4 linked regions of the Homo sapiens genome follow. The protein of the gene in region 4 interacts with the protein of the main gene of each other region in a pairwise test. Each region holds a gene or a part of one and is shown on either strand. Other genes may lie near its edges. The genes, in order: EPC1, SLC7A8, BFSP2 and SYCE1L.

Region 1 (5,139 bases), on a different chromosome or scaffold from region 4:
CGAATAAGAGGATAAATGCTACATGGAAGTGCTTGTCACTTATGAACCCCAACGCAAGTCTCATTTCATTGTTCCGCAAGCCATTTATGAACGTGCCTGTGGGCAGCAGGTATACTGAGCAGATTGTGGGGACCCAGGCCTTGCTCTATCTGTTGGATTTCAGAAATTTCAATCCTAATTATTCTTGAGTACATTTAAGCCAGTAATTTACCGTTTACATTTTAGTCACTCTGATCAGTCACTAGAAAAAGGCAGCTTTTTGTATTTTCTCCTTAAAGAATACAGAACAGAATAAACAAAAAGTTATGCAAATTGGAAGTTTACCCTTTAGAGACAAGGAATTCTTAAAGTCAAGAGTAAGTGGAACACCCTATCATTGGCAGCTGTTTTACAGATTTGATTCTACTCTTGGTGATCGCATCCAAATTCATGGCTTTGAACTTCAATGATGAAGATGACTCTCAAGTTTTGGTCTCCAGCTGAAACCTCTCCTCCAAACTCCATACTTTTATATATGCAACCACCTACTTGAAATCTCTATTTGGATGTCTAACAGTGTGAAGCTGAATTTTGGATCTCGCAAACCCACTCCTCCCACAGTGCTTTCCACCTGTGGTCAGTTGCTCAGGCCAAATACCCTGAAGTCATCCTAACTCTTCTCTTTCTCAAGCCCCTTACATCTAAATTCAGTAAGCAAATTTTAATAGGTCCCTTTAAAGAACAGTATCCAATCACTTCTCACTACCATCCTCGGCCTTATTATCCTTGTCTCTCACTTGCATTACTGCAACTAGCTTCCTAACTGGGCTCCTCCTGCAGTCTGTTCTGAATAACAAAGCCAGAGTGAGCCTCTTCAGACCATGTCACTCCATGGCTCCAAACTCCTTTCTCAGAGGAAAAGCTAATGTCCTTAAATCATCCCCCAGTCCACTGTGAGCTGGCTCCCTGTGGCCGACACGCCCTACCCCAGCTCCCTCCAGCCCTGGCGGTGTTATCCAGTGCAGTAGACACACTACCACCTCGGGATCTCTGTACTTCTCTCTGCCTGGAATATTTTTCCTTAACTTCCAGTCTCTGATGAAACATAACTGCCTGTGGGCCCTTCCTTGACCACCCTACTTGAAACTGCAACCTCCAGCCTTCCCGGGCACTGTTTGTTCCCTTCCTTCACTTTTCTTCCAAATACTGGTCGTAATATATTTTAAATGCATTTATTTATTTATTTTCCCCCTATGAGAGTATAAGCTCCATGAGGGCAGGAATTATTTTCCCCACAGTTGTAGGACCTAAAGTGGTCCCAGGCATTGCAGTCATTCAGTAAGTAACTGTTGAAGAAAATGAACTTAAAGTCATCACCCCCCATTTCCATCCCCTCCTTTATGGAATGATTCTAATATAAGTCACACAGAGGTTCTTGGGTTGAAAACAAAAGCAAAAGACCACTACACATTAGTTTGTCAACATGTAATGCCCTGGGTTTATTTTGTGAGAATTCTATCACAATTTTTCCAGGTGGGATTAAAAACCTTAAGGATAATGTATGCCATTGGACTGGGCATTCAGACTTCGGTACTGACAAAGCACTAGTAGTAGTCTGTTAAGTACCATTCTCTTCACAGAAGAGAGGTCAAATATTTCCAAAGGAAGGCACCCGATATTTGTGGTTCTGGCCTTGCAGCCTTCTGGAGAATCTTAAAAGGAAAAAAGCTGGCTGGCTGTTTTTAGAAACTGGAATGATGATACACGTACAGCAATTACTGCATTCTTCTCCCTTATATCCTTTTCGTAAGAACAAGTAAAGAATGAAGTCTTTTAAACAATTCGACAATAAAAAAGTACAATTTTTTTTGTGCTAAAAAAAGGGCAAGACAACATAAACTCCAGTTGTAAGGACTCCATTTGCATACTTGATTTAACACTTTTTGGTGTGGAAGGAAATGGGACTACTGGGCTGTTCGCAGAGCAGCAACATAATATTAGTGCTTTAAGTACCAGAAACCACCCACAGCTTTGTGGGCAAGTTGGGGATGGAAAGATTCAAGAGACTTCATTTTTAGCTTGTTACTTGTCCTAATGATAGTAGACCAGGAAGATCCCCATTTAATAGTACATTCCCCATTTTTAAAAAAACTGATGCCTTTTTTTTTTTTTTTTTTTTTGTAAAATTCTGTATGTATGTCACCATTTTTTTTCACATGATACACAGAAAACTCAAGGACCCAGAGGGGAACCAAGTTATGTTATACCATTTACAAAATACCAAGGAGTCCACAGCTACCTAACACATTTACTACAGCACAGGAACCAATGAAGGTACAGTGTACAAAAAACTGTAAACACGGCACAATAAATAGATAAAACAGCAGGTTCCGCACCATGCACATGATGTGATGACACTTCATCTCTATACAATCTCACATCTCACACTCTTTGTTGCAATTGATTTCCCTCCCACCCCCCACCCCCAAGTGCAAAGCATCACAAATGAACATTTCTGTATTCAAGTAACATATATACAAGGGTATTACAAATATGCAGTACTGTACAGATAATTGCTGTATTCTTAATTTACAGATGTTGATTTTTTTCCTATTAACAGTAAGAAAAGAAAAATTGAAGCATGAGAGATGAGCATTGCTGTCAAGTCCCCACAGCTGCCACAGAAACGCATGTGCTGCTTTCCATCATCCCTTGCATTCAAAATGCTACTGATGCATAGCACCTAATCAAGTCCCCAGGCTGCAGTTCCACTCGGAGGAAGCTACGTCACCTCCATCGCTACTGTGTTGTCTGCTATGTTGTTCAGTGCTGGCTTTTCTGATTCATGATTTTCCCTGTTGAAATAAAGTTCAATCAATTACTTATCTACAACATAAATATTCAGCAAATGAACATTATCTTCCCAACAAAAAGTTTATTTTTATTAACAGGAAGAAATTGGACTCTTTGGGAACAAGCTAGCAAGTAGAGGAATACGAATCTTTATAGTTTATTATCAGAAATCAGGCTAATGTTGACTATAAATAAATTCCACAGTCAACTACATTACCATCAAAATTATAGTAGTACTCAAGCAACCTAGATGTTAAAAACAAAGAATTCCCATGTTTTAGTAATTGTTGTTTCAAGTTCCTTCTCTATTAAACCTTTCAAAAGAGTTTTTAAAAAGGAAACAAACATAACTGAGATTTGTGTCAGGCTTTAAATCAGTCTAATACATGGAGCTGAGTGGCACAGCCACAGAGCTCGAGGGCCCTAGTGGTTCTACAGTCTAGACTTTTGAGTGTCCTTAGAGAAATACATTAACTTCTCTGCGTCTCAGTTTCTTCATCTTTAAAAACAAAAGGACATGTGATATGAAAATTCTATACATGGCAAATATTCCATGGTTAAACAATTCTAGAGCAGTAAAATCATGATATGAGTCAGAACTATAGCTGACAGATGAGCTATATAATTAGACCCAGAATACTATTAAGAATGGATTGGCATTAAGCAGACAATGACTGTTACTTAAATTCAGAAGCAGATGCAGATGCATGGTTTGGAAACTACAGGCCACAGTTCATTGCTACAAACCCTGCTTTCTTCTGGGCCACTCCTGGCTGAGACAGTCTACCAGTCTGGCATTTAAAGTGCTCCAGGAATCTGGAATGGCTTCTCCTGCCATTCCAATTTAAACTACTAACCTTCCTGAGCCTATACAAAAACCAGTTTACTTGTTAACTTCTAAACACTTGTATTTCCTCAACTTTGTATTTTCACTCAGCCTCAAATTTGTATTTCACTCCACCTGCCAGAAATGCTTTTTCTTTCTCCTCTTTGCCCGAAGACTAACACAGATTGGATCTGATCTTATTTTGTTAGAAGAGTCCCAGAATTCCCTGTGCAAAAAAAGATTTCTCCTTATACTGAATTACAGCCATCATCTATACAATTAATTTAACAAGTATATAATGCTTTGTGATATCTACAATTAGCATTATTGGACTTCTCACTCTTTTATGCTTGTCTGCTAACTAAACTGAAAACACCTGTCTTTTTCTTTTGTTTCTCCCACAGTACCTTGTAGACAGCAGGATTTTAACTACCCTTAATTCTACAACATAATAGAGCATAAGCAAAATTCTCAACTGTCTACTGAAATCCAAGACGGCAAGTTAGCACAAAAAATAATGGTTCAATTTAGAGTTGACCTGGCATGAATACTGTAAGTCTTTACATTAATAAGAATAGCTTAACGCCGGGCGTGGTGGCTCATGCCTGTAATTCCAGCACTTTGGGAGGCCAAGGCAGGCTGACCACCTGAGGTCAGGGGTTCAAGACTAGCATGGCCAACATGGTGAAACCCCGTCCCTGCTAAAAATGCAAAAATTAGCCAGGCATCGCGGTGTATGCCTGTAATCCCATCTACTCAGAAGGCTGAGACAGAATCACTTGAACCTGGGAGGCAGAGATTGCAGTGAGCTGAGATTGTGCCACTGCACTCCAGCCTGGGCAACAGAGCGAGACTCGGTCTCAAAAAAAAAAAAAAAAAAAAAAAAAAAAGAATAGCTTAGCATACCAGTGATGGGGCAGGGGTTTCTATCAATTCTACCTGTTTACATGAGAAGCTGTGGAAAAAAAGTCATAAAAGAAACGCTCTCAGGAGAACTCCTTCCATCCAAAGACGGAAGAAAACTGAGAGCATTATACGCTTTTTTTTTTTTTTGAGACAGAGTTTAGCTCTTGTTGCCCTGGCCAGAGTGCAATGGTGCGATCTTGGTTGCAACCTCCACCTCCCAGGTTCAAGCGATTCTCCTGCCTCAGCCTCCTGAGTAGCTGAGATTACAGGCATGCGCCACCATGCCCGGGTGATTTTGTATTTTTAGTAGAGGTGGCCTTTCACCATGTTGGATCGGCTGTTCTCGAACTCCTGACCTTAGGTGATCTGCCTGCCTCTGCCTCCCAAAGTGCTAGGATTACAGGCGTGAGCCACTGCACCTGGTATAACTATTGTTATAGTAAGAAAGGGATGTTCCAAATCATATATGCAACATTCACTATACCAGTTAGTTCAAATTCTTAATATTGAATTAAGTGTTCAAGAACTGTTTAGTTCTTGAATAAATAAGTGATCAATTCTCAACTATACATTTT
Region 2 (5,118 bases), on a different chromosome or scaffold from region 4:
TCCCCTGTCCTAGTCCAGTGGTCCTCCTACTCTTCCTCCTAGAGCTAACTCTTCTTCTCAGATGGCTCTGTCCAGCTGAGTGAACCTAGCCTTACCTCCCAGGCCCTCCCATCAAGCTCCTCAGACCCTGACTCTCTCCACAGACTCGGCTCAGGCTGTGCTGATGAGAGAAGCCTTTGCTGATCAGGCTTTGGGAGGACATCTGCCTTTGCCTCCCTCAACTTGGCTGGATGCCATCTCTCCCTTGCCCATGTCCCACCCTGGGCAATGTTGACTTCTTCCCAGTTAGTCTGCAGGCTTTCAGTACGGTGCACAGAGCAGGAACTTAATAACACTTCATGACTCCAAGAAGGAGTGAGACAGTGTTGTTAAATAAAAAATTACAGAAGGCCATGGTTTTGGACTAAGCTCCTGCCCTAGGCCCCACAGACCAGGCTAAAAATCAAAATAGAATCACCCATGCTAAAGTTCCACATCACCAAATCTAAACTAAGTTGTTATCTGACCTTCCTAGAAATCAGGAGAGAGACATAACAGCCAATTAAAACAGGCCAGTTTCAATATTCAATGGACATGATAATGAAGTTCCCTCTGCTTTAATCTTTACACAAAACAAGGCAGCCTGAAGGATCCTGATATGAACTAATCAGTTATTTTTCTATTGTTCCGTCTCCCTGTCCCCACCTTACAAGAAAAGTAAATTTGTTTTTGTTTTTGAGACAGGGGCTTGCTCTTCCGCCCAGGCTGGAGGGCAGTAGCGCAAGCATAGCTCACTGCAGCCTCGACCTCCCAGGCTCAACCCATCCTCCTTTCGGCCTCGGCCTCCCAAGGAGCTGGGACCACAGGCACATACCACCATGCCCAGCTAATTTTATCTTTTGTAGAGACGAGGTCTTGCTATGTTGCCCAGGCTGGTCTCAAACTCCTGGGCTCAAGAGATCCTCCCTCCTCGGCCTCCCGAAGTGCTGGGATTACGGGAGTGAGCCGCTGTGCCCGGCCAAGAAAAGCAACTTCGAAAAGTGACTAACCAGCTTTCTTCAGCCCTCCCTGTCTGTAAAGCCAACCTCTTCTGCTCAACTCATTGGAATATGTATTCTATTTTATGGAATGAAGTGTTGCCTGATTCCAGAATTACAGTAAACAATTGAGATCTGTAAATTCGTTGTACTTTTGTCTTTTGATGTTTTTGGTTCAGAATGAGAGTCAGTGGTTTGAATGCACTGGCATTGAGTCCCTAGGATAGCTAGAAGTTACAGAGAGCGAGAGCTTTTAGGAATGTCATTCTGGAAGGAACCTGGCAAGATCTCCTAAGAGGAAATGCCTGGTGACTCTGTCTCAAAAGGTTACTTAATTACCAACACCACCAACTTCATTTCCATTTTAAATTTTATTACATCAAAAGAAAAAAACCTCTCCACAAAACAAATCTCTAAAACCTACACCAAACGAAAGAAATTATCATTAAGGTTCTAACTCCATCCCCCAAAACAACCTTACATTAAAAAAAATCCAAAAGAAATAGAAATACCAGCTTCAAAAATATTTATCCAAAAAGTAAGGCATCAACTTTACAAAAAAATAATTGAAGGAGGGGAGGAAGTTGGAGGAATGAGAAAAGAGGGAATAAGAAGATGGTCCCCTGACCCTCCAGGGGCCAACCCCAGCCTGCCGGGCATCTACTCTGAAGGGGTCACAACTCAGACCAAACTTGGCATCTCACCAACTATGGGGTGGGCAAGCTGGGCGGGGAAGCTGGGAGACACCATCCAGGCCAGGAAGGGCTCCTGTGTATTCCAGTTTAAGCAGACAGAATTCGGGGTGGGGGAGAGAATCCCGATTTGTGATAAAAGGATCCTAAGTCCTTAGTGCAGCAGGAGTGGCTGGGAAGGTTGCAGGGCCCACAGCAAACTCCATAGCCTTCCTTTGAAGCCCAGGGAAAGGTCAGAGGCTGCCAGCCACAGAGGAGGGCCTTTTTTGAGGATCTCCAGAGTGGGCGCCCTGCTGCCACTACCCTTTCACCCTGCCCCAAGACAGCATGACACTGAGACCTGCGAGGAGTGGGGGATTATTGGAGTTGGGGATGGATGGGAAAGGAACTGGGCTTCAGCCAATGCTCTCCTCAGTCTCCCAGGGTATGGAATGGGCACCTCTAGGGAGGGGGAAAGCACCCTTCCTCCCAGGGAAGGCATTTAATATCAGATCCGTCCTGAGGGTTAGAAATAGGGGAGTATTTTTAGGCCAAGTTCTTGGATGGGAGGTGACTTAAGGCTGATCTGGCTCTGATCTCAGGCCTGAAGGGCTTGGGGATCCTTCGTACCTGGTCCCAAGCCAAGGCCCAGAGAGGAGAAGTGCACGGTGGGGGCGGTGGTGCTGGCTGTGTGCGGGTGTGCTGGGAGTGGCTGCAGGGATAGCAGGGGACTGCTCCTTCCTGCGGCGGGCAGGTGGAGTTGCTGAGCAGCTTCGTCATTAGGAGAGAGATGCCCACTACCTTAAAAATCAGAAGCTTTTTGGCTTCTGGAAGCTTTGGCACCATGTTGGGGGCTGGATGCAGGAGGCAGGGGCAGGGCTGGGTTTCTGCAATCTGAACCTTTCTCAATATGTTCCTCAACCGCCTGGCTTGGGGGTGGAGAGGCTGTTCTTCTCCTTGGTCCTTAGCTCTGGGAGTTGGCGTCCTGAGGAGAACCGAATTCTGGACAGGGAGCCCTGGCTGGGGTGGGTGCAGGTATGATGGGGAGGGGCAGGAAAGAGGGCAGAGGGAAGCATCCCCTTGGATTTTGGGTCCCTGGTGAACAGATAGGGTCTTGGGTCTCTCCAGCTGACCCCTTGATGGGGACAGAATTGCTTGAGCCTGTCCCCCCACAATGCAGCTCCTGTGGCCTCTCCTCTCTGAAGGGGCCTCCCTGGGAGGGAAGGCAGTAATGAGCTCCGGTTCCTGAAGAGGCAGCTGAGGGTGTGGCCCGGAGGGAGGTCCTGCAGGGCACCTTGGCATCTCCCCTCTCCTCCAGCAGCTGGGAGTGTGGGCAGCACTGGAGTGGGGCCTGGGACATGGACCCTGGGGTGAGAGGCTGGTTCTTTGGGTATGAATGTCAGTTTTTGTTTACAATTTCTCACCACCCACACCAAAGTCCTACCACTGCCTGACAAAAGCAGAGAGAGGGGTGTGTGTGTACTCGCATGTGTTGGCAGGACCAAGGCAGGGAGGTAGGATAAAAGGGGGAGGAAGGAGAGAGTAGCCAGGGAATGGTGGTCCTCAGGGCTGGGGCTGCCCCGCCACGTCCTTGTCCTTCGTGGGAGTGGGTTGGTACATGGGCTGCTGCTGCTCCTCCATGTCCTCATTAGCCTCCTCTGTCCCTGAGCCCCGCTCCACCTCGGGGTACACGACCACACACATCTTCTGGCTCACCAGGGTTAGCAGCTCTGTAGGAAGAGATCACACAGAAACCAGGCCAATGCTGAGTATCCCACCAACCTGGCCAAGTGGCCCCGGCCCTTCCTGGCTCTCCTGCTCCAGGTTCTGCCTCTTCAGAGCAGTCAGTGCGTTGAAGAGAATCCTCGCCACCTGGTCTGCCTCCTGCATCTCCCGCCGGCTACTCTTTGCTTATGAAGGCCCCAGCCTTCCCACCTTCCCTGTGCCCACTGACCCCTAAGTCCAGGGTCTCCTCTGGTCTCCACCCAGCCTCGGGCAGCTCTCACAGAATGGCTGACAGGTTGCCTATTTTATTTTAAAATTTTTAATAACAGAGATGGAGTCTTGCTATGTCGACCAGGCTGGTCTCAACCTCCTGGGCTCAAGTGATCCTCTGTCTCAGCCTCCCAAAGTGCTGGGATTACAGGCGTGAGCCACTGTGCCCAGCCCAGGTTGCCTATTCTTGCGGGTCTAAGGTCTGTGTGGAAATGCCAGCTGTTCTCTACCCTCAGAGGTCTCTGGGAAAAGGCATCTGCTTCCCCTGCTCTGGACTCTTCCAGGGCTCTGTGGACTGAGGAGAAGGTGAGCCTAGATCTCCTGGCCCTGGTGGCTCCCCAACCCCATCACTGACCACTGCATTCCAGCCCAGGAGGCCCTGAAGCCAGCCAGAGCCTCCAACAACTCACCAATGAAGTCACTGAAACACTTGGGCTTGTGTTGCCAGTAAACACCCAGGAAATAGACAGGCACTCCTGTCAGCATGATGGCCAGGCCAATGCCACACACCACCGGCTCTGACCACAGGCTGAAGACCAGCAGGAAGGCCCAGAACAGCAAGTAGATGATGGGGAACAGCAGGTTGATCTGTGGAGCAGAGGCATGAGGCGTATGAACTGTGTAGGCCACGTGGCCCCCAGGACTAGGGACTGGGGCATTCTCTCTCTTCTTCACCCACAGAGACACATCCTCAAGGGCAAAGGCTGGGCTTCCCTCGGCTCTGTGGTCCCACACTCACCCCTGGTAGGGCAGGGGCTATATAAACAAATGTTGATGAACATGGTCGGTCAGACAGGAAGAGGATGGGGAGGAGTTAGGGAGGAAACGATCCTCCTTGCCCATGTCCTCGCTCTTGGGTGTGGTTAGACAAGGCCTCATCATGCATGCCATGTGCCCGTGGCAGCCAGAGAAGCCCACAGGGATGGAGAAGCTTGCTGGCACATGGGTGTGTCTGCTGAGGTCCTAGGGTGGAGGGGAGGTGTGGCAATGCACAAGGTGCAGGCAGGAGACGATTCGAGTCACTCAGGCTCCCTGGTCCTTGCCCACTTCTGTGCAGGGCCCTTATGTGGGCACAATATGGCAAATGTCAGCTCCTTATGGGCCACATGTGGGGAGTTCCTGAGAGTATCCTCTTCAGGGCTCCAGGGGCAGTCCTGATTCGGCTGCCTTTCTCTTCCTTGTCTTCCTCGCTCAGAAGGGATGTGTGTGGTGGGGACATGGGGTTATTCTACCTCCTCTTCCCTCTAGCAGATTTTCTAAGTGTGAGAGTAGAAAATGGCGGTGGAAATGCCAGTGAGGAACTGAGAGATTTGGAGAGCCTTTGATTTTTCAGCTGGAAGGATCTTCTAGAAGCATCTAGTCACTGTTTCTAGAATAGGATTGTTCAAATAGCTCTGGAGTACACTCTATTCTTCTAATTCGTAGGAGAACTCATA
Region 3 (5,185 bases), on a different chromosome or scaffold from region 4:
TGATTTGAGTGCTGCCCACTTGGAAAAGATACGTGAGAGGGAGAATCCCCGTTTGCATTAGGGTCCCCAGGTGATTTGGAGCGCTGATATTCCTTGCTATGCTGATCATTCCCATGAGAGCTGGAATGACTGGAGCTTAACGAAGAGACAGCCTGGGGTTTCCCAGGGCTGGAAGAGCGCGGCTTGGAGTGCTGTGATCCATGCTGACATTTTTCTCTGGTCTTCTGCTCCCACTACTGCTATGTGAGTCACAGTCATGTCTCTGGCCACGACTGTTAGTGCCACTGCTGCCACCTGCACCGGTCTACTGGCTACTATGTCCACTCTGTAAGCCTGAGGACTGTTTCTGGGACAGAAATGCTGGGTGCAGAGGTCCTACTGGGGTCCATTTTCATCTGTTATAGGTGGTACCGTAGGCTTGGAAACTGCAATAAGCCTTGGTATAGATTTGTCTCCTATAAAATCTTTCATTTCACCATAGTTTCCAAGCCTACTCTGGATACAACTCGATAACTTATCTTCCTTGCTAGTAGTTTTGTATGGCTCAGCAAAGAGAAGAGAGCTAGGTGGGAAGGCAACTTCGTCCTGTTGAATTTCCTGATCCCGCCTTTCTTGTTCTTTCATACCCGCCACGGTCCGGGCTTTATGGTTCATGTTGCTTATCTTGACTTCTTTTTCTCCCCAGTGCAGCCTCCTTGGTGTCCATCCTTATGGCAGTTGGACCTCAGCTTTGCTGTTGCTTTAGATTCCACAGCATGAGGTGTAGAAGAGTCCTGAGCACAGGAGTTCTGTCCCCATGGAGTTGGGGTAGCCACCCTCCCAGCACATGGATGTCTTCTTGTTCACCTTACTGGAAGCCCTGATAATATTCTTATTGATTCCCAACCATCTTTGGTTAGTGGGAGCTTCTTTGAATTGACTCCTAAGTCTTCTGACATGACTGTAGTAGTTTTTCATAGCGTCCTTGCTTTCTGGTATGACAAGGTGTTTCAGACTCGTCTTGAATATTTCCTATCCTCGAACCTGGATTCAGCCATTTCTACAAGGAGCCCCCCATTCTTTTAGTGAAAGATGGTTGTTAGAGACCCAAATCTGAGGCTAAAAATGTTCATTGTCGCTAAGTTGGCCATTGCTTCTAGATCTTTTCAGTGGTCAGACTTGGAAATAGGCATATATTTATTTTCATGATCACATATATCATGACTTTATATTGATAATTCTGATTTAAATTCAAGACTAAAGAATTGTCACTAAACGTCATGCATCTTACAACTGTATCTCCTTTCACTCACATTCAAGTCTCAGTTTTCAATAACACAAATATAGTTACTCTCTTACTCTGTCCCACAGTACACACACACACACACACACACACACACACCAGTGTCAGAATAACAGTGCCAGTGCTACCACCACCAATGTGATTACTGAAAAATTGTTGGGTTTTTTTCTGTTGTCTTTTGCATCTCCACTAGGAATGTACAGTTAAATTCCTGTGGTTTAAAAAGCCACTTGGAATAGTTCTTCTTCGTGTGACTATGCTATCAACTTGGTACATAGCTGGATTCATTTGTTTCTTTTTATTTTTGATTCTTAGAATTGGCTTTCTGAAATCTATTTTTGTTATACAATTCTGTAAAATATTTTCATGGTTCCAAAGTCATCTCCACATAACAAGATAAATTAGAAGAACTCTAGTGCCCTACCTTTCCCTGCTACTTTTTCCCCTCCACCCTCCTATAAGTAACATTTAAAAATACTTATGGTTTGTTTTATTCCATTTTTTCAATGTAAACACATATGTATGTATATATTCATATCCTTCCCTTTTCTTAGCTAGATGGTAGAATGAAATACACACTCTTTCCATCTTGCCTTTTAGCTCAATAACATATCCTGGAGATCATCACTCCATAGTAGCTATAGAGCGATTTCTTGTTCCTTTGCAGATGCATCATGGTTTATTCAACGAGTCCCCTCCTGGGAGGTATTTGGATTTTTCCAGTATTTTGGTATTACAGATAGGATTGCAGTGAACAGCTTTGTACATACTTCTTGTTCATATTTTTGCCAGTGTGTCATTGGGAGTGTGTCCTAGAAACAGGACTGCTGGGTCAAATTATGTATACATAAATGCCTATATAATTTGTCTAGATGTTGCCAAATTTTTCTCCATAGGGGTTGTAACATTTTCTATTCCCATCAACACTGTATAAACTTGCCTGTTTCCCTAGAGCTTCACCAACAAATAGTTTGACATACTTTTAGAGTTTTGCTAATTGGATAGGTAAAAGTGGTATCTCAGGTAGATTTTAAAAATTTCTCTTATTATGAGTGCAGTTGAGACATTAGGAGCCATTTTCATCTATTTTTTGTGTCAACTGTCTGTTCATATCTCTAACATTTAAAAATAAAAGAGTGCTATCGGCTTTTTTTAACCTCAAATTTTAAATGCTGTGTATAAAATAGGGCTATTTTAACCTTTTGTATCCTACATTGCATTTTTTTTTCTAGTTTGTCATTTATCTTTTAATTTTGCTTATGGTGATATTTTGAAATGCAACATTTTAAAATTTTTCTTAATCAAATTTATCAATATTTTCCTTTGTTGCTTTTGTATTTTGAATTGTAACAAGAAAAATTTTTCCCACATCCAAGTTATAAAGGAATTCACCTATGTTTTCTACTTGTATGGTTTCATTTTTGATTTTATATCTAGGATACATTTAGAACTGACCCTAGGGTACAGCAAGAAATGGATCTAATTTTATTATTTTCCTTATGACTATCTAGTTGTCTGAATATCACTTATTAAAAAGTCCATCCTTCCCTCTATTGGTTTCAAATGCTGCCTTCATCAATACTCAATTTCCAAACACAGTAGAGCTTACTATAGAATGTTCTATTCTGTTCCATGGTTTTCTCATCTTTTTTGTGCCAACGCTAAACTATTTTAATTACAGAGACTTTATAATATGTTAATGTCTGGCGGGGCTGCTGGTCCCCTCCCCAGCCTCCTCCCCTCCACTCTTTCTTAGTTTTTCTTTCCTGGCCATTCTTGTCTTTCTGTTCTTACAAAGGGAATTTAAAATCAACTCATCTAACTCTAGAAAAAAAAATGGAATTTTAAAAATTAGGATTGCATTAAATTGATACATTAACTTAGGGAGAAGAGACATCTTTATGCTATTGAGTCTATTTGAGTGCATGGTGTTTCTTTCCATTTGTTCAAGACTATTTTGTGTGTTTCAGATAGATTTGATTGTTGTCTAATATAGACTTTGGACATTTCTGAAGTTTAGAGGTGATTCATCTTACGCTATCATAAATAAGATTTTCTCATCTCTTTTATCTTTTTGTTTATATATAAATAGCATTGTTTGTTATTTGTTTTGAGATGGCCCTTGCTTTGTTGCCCAGGCTGGTCTTGAACTCCTGGGCTCAAGCAATCCCCCTGCTTCACCCTCTTGAATACCTGGGACTACAGGTTTGTACCACCATGCCCAGCAGCATTTATTTATTTATTTTTCTTTTAGAGACAGGGTCTTGCTCTGTCACCCAGGCTGGAGTGCAGTTGTAGAATCATGGCTCACTGCAGCCTCAACCTCCCAGGCTCAAGTGATCCTTCTGCCTTGGCCTCACAATGTACTTGGATTACAGGCATTTGCCCACATGCCCAGCCTCAGCATTGCTTTTTGATGTTATTTTATAACGTGCTACTTCACTAAATCATCTTATTTTTTGTCGTATAGTTTTTACATTGTTCCTTCTGGGATTTCCAGAAAGACCAAATTTTTCCCTCTTTCTTTCCAATTCTTATACCAAGTACTTTCTCTTGTCTAATCATATTGACTACTGCCTCTAACCAACGAGAGAGAGCGGGCATCTTTTTCTCATTCTTAATTTCTGTGGAAGGCCTAGTGTTTCCTTCTTAGAGATATTTTATCATGTCAAAGGAAGTCTCTAATCATCCTCATTATTCAGATGAGAAACTGAGATGCAGAGATCAATGAAGACCTTGGCTCAAGATCACACGGTTGGTAGATGGCAAGCGGCAAGGCTAGGGGCTGTCTGGCTTCAAAATCCCCAGTCTTTGCATCACATCTAATTTTCCCTAGTTTTCATGGAAAACTGACCCCACCCCCTGTCTTCCATTTCCCAACATGGAACTCACATTTTAAGAGATCTTAAGAGGTTTAAGAGTGGCCGAGTGTGGTGTATGAGAGGGGCATGGAAAGAGGCCCTGAGTGCCACACCCTAGTCTCCCTCTGTTTTCTTTAGCAGTTCTCTTGCTTTCCAGACACATTCAACTTCCAGAAACCACCTTTCTTAGAAAGCAGCTTAGTGACTGGCTGGGCACGGTGGCTCACGCCTGTGATCCCAATACTTTGGCAGGCCAAGGCTGGTGGATCACCTGAGGTCAGGAGTTTGAGACCAGCCTGGCCAACATGGTGAAACCCTGTCTCTACTAAAAATACAAAAAAAAAAAAAATAGCTGGATATGGTGGTGGGCACCTGTAATCCCAGCTACTTGGGAGGCTGAGGCAGGAGAATCGCTTAAACCCGGGAGGCGGAGGTTGCAGTGAGCCGAGATTGCGCCACAACCTGGGCAACAGAGTGAGACTCCATATCAAAAAATAAATAAATAAAAATAAATAAAGAGGCTTAGTGGCCACCTGTATTATATGAACAAGACCCTTGGGAAGCAGGCTCATGCCTCCTTCTCCCCCTCTCCCATCAAAATATTTCTTCCAATCATATACCTCACTCTTCCTAAGAGGAATGAATCTCTCTAACGGACTTTTCTCTGGTAGCTACATTTCTAACCATACTGTAGTGTCCCTTATAGCTTGGCTGACAAAGAAACCGCCCCACTGGCCTGCTCTGACCAAACAAATTGCACTGATTAAGAAACAGGCTGAGTGACTTTTTCTTGGGGAAATGTGTTCAGGCCTTTGCAGATTATGATTCTGCCCCCATCACCTACTTTCCAGGGATACCAGGTTGTAAATCATGAACAACAAACCCTGTTGCCTTTATTTATTCTCAGTGGAGAAGGATTAGTTCTTGTTTTTTTTTTCTAAAAAGAGAGCCTTCTAGGACCACAAGTTCTGTGGGAGAAACCTGGCCCAGATCTGGATTGCCTGAGTTTCCAGCATGTTCTTCAAGTAGGCAGATTCCCTGA
Region 4 (3,839 bases):
GAATCCCGCCCTCTCTTGGTCATTCTCACGCCCCTGGCTGATTTGTTTCTTAAGAGCCTTTATGTCCACCTGACACTGTGTGTGTATTTCTTTATAGCCATCTTTCTCCTCAGTGTAAACCTTGTACATTCTTCAGGGTCTTCACTCCTTCAACATTTACAAAGAATGTGGGCATAGAGGGGGAGAAGCTGGATCAGGATGGTCCTTCTGGGAGATGGTTGCAAGGGTGGCAAGAAGATACCTCACCTCTCCTAGGGCTGTACTACACCTTCTGTGTGGCTTTCCCCTTATATGAAGTTGCACTGGGGATGGCAATGGGGTGCCTGGAGGCAGAAAGTGTCATTGTGTTTTCCAGTGAATGGAGAGAAAGTGCACCTAGAGGAGGTCTTGGGCAAAAAGCAAGGTATTTACCAGTTGCTGTGTCTTCCTTATTCTACTCTTCCACCCCACAAAAGTCTATGCTCCTCAGAGCAGCCAGAGGAATCCCACTGAAACCTAAGGCAGGGTGCTTCCCTCTCTGCACAGATCTCTTCCTGGATTGCTACATCACTTGGAGTAAACACCCAAGTCCTCACAGTGCCCTCCAATGCCTGACATGATGTGGGGCCTATTACCTCTGGCCAACCCTGACTCCCCAAGAGCTCTCAAAGGGTCCCCTTGGTTCCTTCCCCACAGAGGCACTGAGGATCCTCCAGATGCACTGCCAAGAGAAGGAAAGCGAGGCTCAGAGGTAAGAGGCCCTGCCTCAGCTCTTCCCTACCTCATTCCCCAGCTGAAAAAGGAGGGAGCAAGAGCTGTGGAAATGAATCTTGGACACAGAAGCCTCATTTTACCTTTCTATAAAATAGAGCAGCCTGACAAAAGATTTCCTTGGTTATCTCTGATATTAAATGGTCGTGTTAAGATTAATTTACTCATTTAATTATTCGTTACTAATTTCTTTATCAAATATATTCCCTCCATTGGTCTTAGCCTCAGTCTTTTTCTGTTGGCTATCCAGCTCCTTTGATATCCATTCACTTGCTTATTTGCCTCCTTATTTTAAGCCCCAGTCATCCATTTGCCCACCCATTCATCTATCCACCCATCTAGCCATTCACCTACTCACTCATTCATCCATTCATCCATCTATCCAACCATGTCATCCAGCCAGATGGCTGTTTTATCTCCGGCCTTCCACCTAACAATCTTCCATCCATCCAATCATGCATTCATCCTCTCTTTATTCTTTCCATCATATATTCACTTAGCCAAACATCCATCCAGACATCTACCCTTCCTTTTAGCAATCCTTTCTTTCTCTGTCCAGCCACTATTCCTCTACTCATCATTTCTCCAATCAGCTATCATTTCTCCAGCCAGCAACTCACACATCCAGTCAACTGTCTATCCAACCTGTATCCATCCATCTCTTCATCCTCCCGAGTAGCTGAGATTACAGGCATGTGCCACCATGCCCGGCTAATTTTGTGTTTTTAGTAGAGATGGGGTTTCTCCATGTTGGTCAGGCTGGTCTCGAACTCTCGACCTTAGGTGATCCTGCCCACCTTGGCCTCCCAAAGTGCTGGGATTACAGGCGTGAGCTACCACACCCGACATCTTCTGAACTTTTACCTAGCACACTCCTGTTACCAGAGGTCTCTCATCCTGGTGCACCATGATTTTAATTGCATGGGGAAACCTGATGTTAGCTAATGTGTGATACTCAACCACACTACTCACACTGTATGATGAGCATTTATGCTCATTTATGTACCTAATCCTCACAATGATAATTATAGGAGTTAAGGCTAATGTCACCCTCCCATCACTACCACCATTTTACATATTAGGAAACTGAGACCCAGAGAGGTTAAGTAACTTGGCCAGGGTCTCGGTGAAGTAACAGATTAGGGTTCAAGCCAGGATGTTATAGAATCTGTGGTGCCAAATTACCACACGCCTCACAAAGCTTTCTTGGGAAGGCAGAGTTCATTCCATGGGGGACAGGATGGACAGGGTAATGTTCTCAACAGAGGCCCATGAAGGTTCTCATTCAACAGGAGAAACAAGAAAGGTGAATGCTGTGAACAGACATCCCAACTCCCACTCCTGCTGGAGTGAATGATGGGTCATTCAGAGAATATGACTGAGGGTTGTCTTTCCCTTCCCAGGAAGCACATGCTGCAAGAGTGCATGGAACAAATTTTTGCCCATAATTCTCAGGTTTCAGAGTCTCAAACAGAGGAATCTGGGGTAACTCCCAAGCCTGGGGCCTGGCAGGCCACTGTGTAGAAAGTGGGAACAGGGCTTGCATCAGGGAGAGTTTGTTGGAAGAGGTGCTACGGGAACCAAAGCTTAGAGGATAAAACCCATGAAGGGGCTCCCAGCAGAGGGAGCATGGGCAGGATCTGAAGGCCTGTGCATGAGGAGCCCCCAACAGGGTGTCAGGCCTAGCATGTGTTCTCTTATTCCTGGGTGTCGGCCTCCAGGTTGGATGTCAGAGGACAGCTGGAGGATCTGATGGGCCAGCACAAGGACCTCTGGGAATTCCACGTGAGCCATTATCATTGCCTGCAACCAAAGCCACTCCTCCCTGGCTTTAGTGTCGCACTGACTGGCCCAGAGTCCACCCCTGCCCAGGCTCAATGCCGCGGGATAGTCCTTGATTCCTTGCTTCCGCTTGCCCACCTATTCAGTCCCTCAGCTTTTATCTAAAATCAACTTACGCCTCACCATGCCCCACTGCCACACCCAGCATCACCTGCCCAGACGGGTGCAGTACCATTGTGATCCTGCTTTCCCCCTGCTCATCTAGTGTATGTTCACCTTGCAGTGGCAAATGGCAGCCCAGGGAAAGCCATGGTCAGGTCATTCCTTCATTTAGCTAATGTCAGTGGTTGCACCGGTCAGCATTTGAGGCAGGGAGGGAGGGTAGCAGATCAAAGAGTCCACGTCTTTGCTGTCCCAAGCTGGTTGGGGACGGTGGAGGCACCAAGAAAGTTAGTGGCTAGATCGTGGAACTTCAGTGGGAAGGCCTCTAAGCAAGTGACATCTCAACGCAGAGGTGAAGGAAGTGAGGGAAGAAGCCGTGCAGGTATCGGTGCAGAAGGAAGGCCCTGGGGCTGGACGGTGCCTGAAACCGTTGAGGAGCCGCAGATTGGGGAATGGAGGATGAGGAGAGTGGGAAGAGTTCAAGTTTGAGAGGTGCCTGGAGACATGGAGAGCGTTTAGGGGGAGGTGGGTGGGTCTCCAGCCACAGCAGGAACTGCACATTGAGTTAATAAATAGTTGAATGAATGAATGACCTAATGTAGGTGAAGACTTCGCGAGAAGCACAAAAGGGGAGGGGCGGGCCGTGTAGCCAAGAGGACGGCCAAACGGGGAGGCCTCCTCTTTGTCCTCGCAGATGCTGGAGCAGCGACTGGCCCGGGAGATCCGTGCCCTGGAGAGAAGCAAGGAGCAGCTGCTCTCGGAGAGTGAGCCTCCCGCGCCAGGTGGGCGGGGGGAGGGGGATGTGCCCGGGCCTCGGCCCTGCCCCTGACGCCCGCCCACCGACAGGGAGGCTGGTGCGCGCCAAGCTGCGGGAGGTGGAGCGGCGGCTGCACTCGCCGCCTGAGGTCGAGGGCGCCATGGCGGTGAATGACGGGTGAGAGGGGAAGGGAGGAGTGGGCGAGGAGGGCAGGGGCAGGGCGGAGGGGAACCCGCCCAGGTCCCCCGCTCCGCCCCCGACTGCCGCTTCCCCGGCCTGTGCCTCCCTCGGCGTCGTCGGGTCTCCGCGTCTCGGTGGCTTCCTCCTCGTCCCCTGGACTCTCGCTCTCTTCCTCCTGTCTCCTCGGCCCCTTCTCCGCAGGCTGAAG

What was found.
Region 1: the proteins of SYCE1L (region 4) and EPC1 interact in a two-hybrid assay, tested with the Homo sapiens proteins (one large-scale study listed by BioGRID).
Region 2: the proteins of SYCE1L (region 4) and SLC7A8 interact in a two-hybrid assay, tested with the Homo sapiens proteins (one large-scale study listed by BioGRID).
Region 3: the proteins of SYCE1L (region 4) and BFSP2 interact in a two-hybrid assay, tested with the Homo sapiens proteins (one large-scale study listed by BioGRID).

What each region holds. Positions count from the first base shown.
Region 1 is NC_000010.11:32,266,302-32,271,440, forward strand, and holds the end of EPC1 (enhancer of polycomb homolog 1), read right to left. Parts: intron 2,835-5,139; coding exon 2,762-2,834; 3' UTR 1,450-2,761; downstream 1-1,449. UniProt on the Homo sapiens protein: Component of the NuA4 histone acetyltransferase (HAT) complex, a multiprotein complex involved in transcriptional activation of select genes principally by acetylation of nucleosomal histones H4 and H2A.
Region 2 is NC_000014.9:23,123,927-23,129,044, forward strand, and holds the end of SLC7A8 (large neutral amino acids transporter small subunit 2), read right to left. Parts: intron 4,439-5,118; exon of another isoform or gene 4,271-4,438; coding exon 4,093-4,270; intron 3,418-4,092; coding exon 3,251-3,417; 3' UTR 1,369-3,250; downstream 1-1,368. UniProt on the Homo sapiens protein: Associates with SLC3A2 to form a functional heterodimeric complex that translocates small and large neutral amino acids with broad specificity and a stoichiometry of 1:1.
Region 3 is NC_000003.12:133,405,424-133,410,608, reverse strand, and holds part of BFSP2 (phakinin), read right to left. Parts: intron 1-5,185.
Region 4 is NC_000016.10:77,208,742-77,212,580, forward strand, and holds part of SYCE1L (synaptonemal complex central element protein 1-like), read left to right. Parts: intron 1-355; coding exon 356-403; intron 404-675; coding exon 676-730; intron 731-2,471; coding exon 2,472-2,535; intron 2,536-2,845; exon of another isoform or gene 2,846-3,190; intron 3,191-3,287; exon of another isoform or gene 3,288-3,388; coding exon 3,389-3,458; intron 3,459-3,540; coding exon 3,541-3,628; intron 3,629-3,832; coding exon 3,833-3,839. UniProt on the Homo sapiens protein: May be involved in meiosis.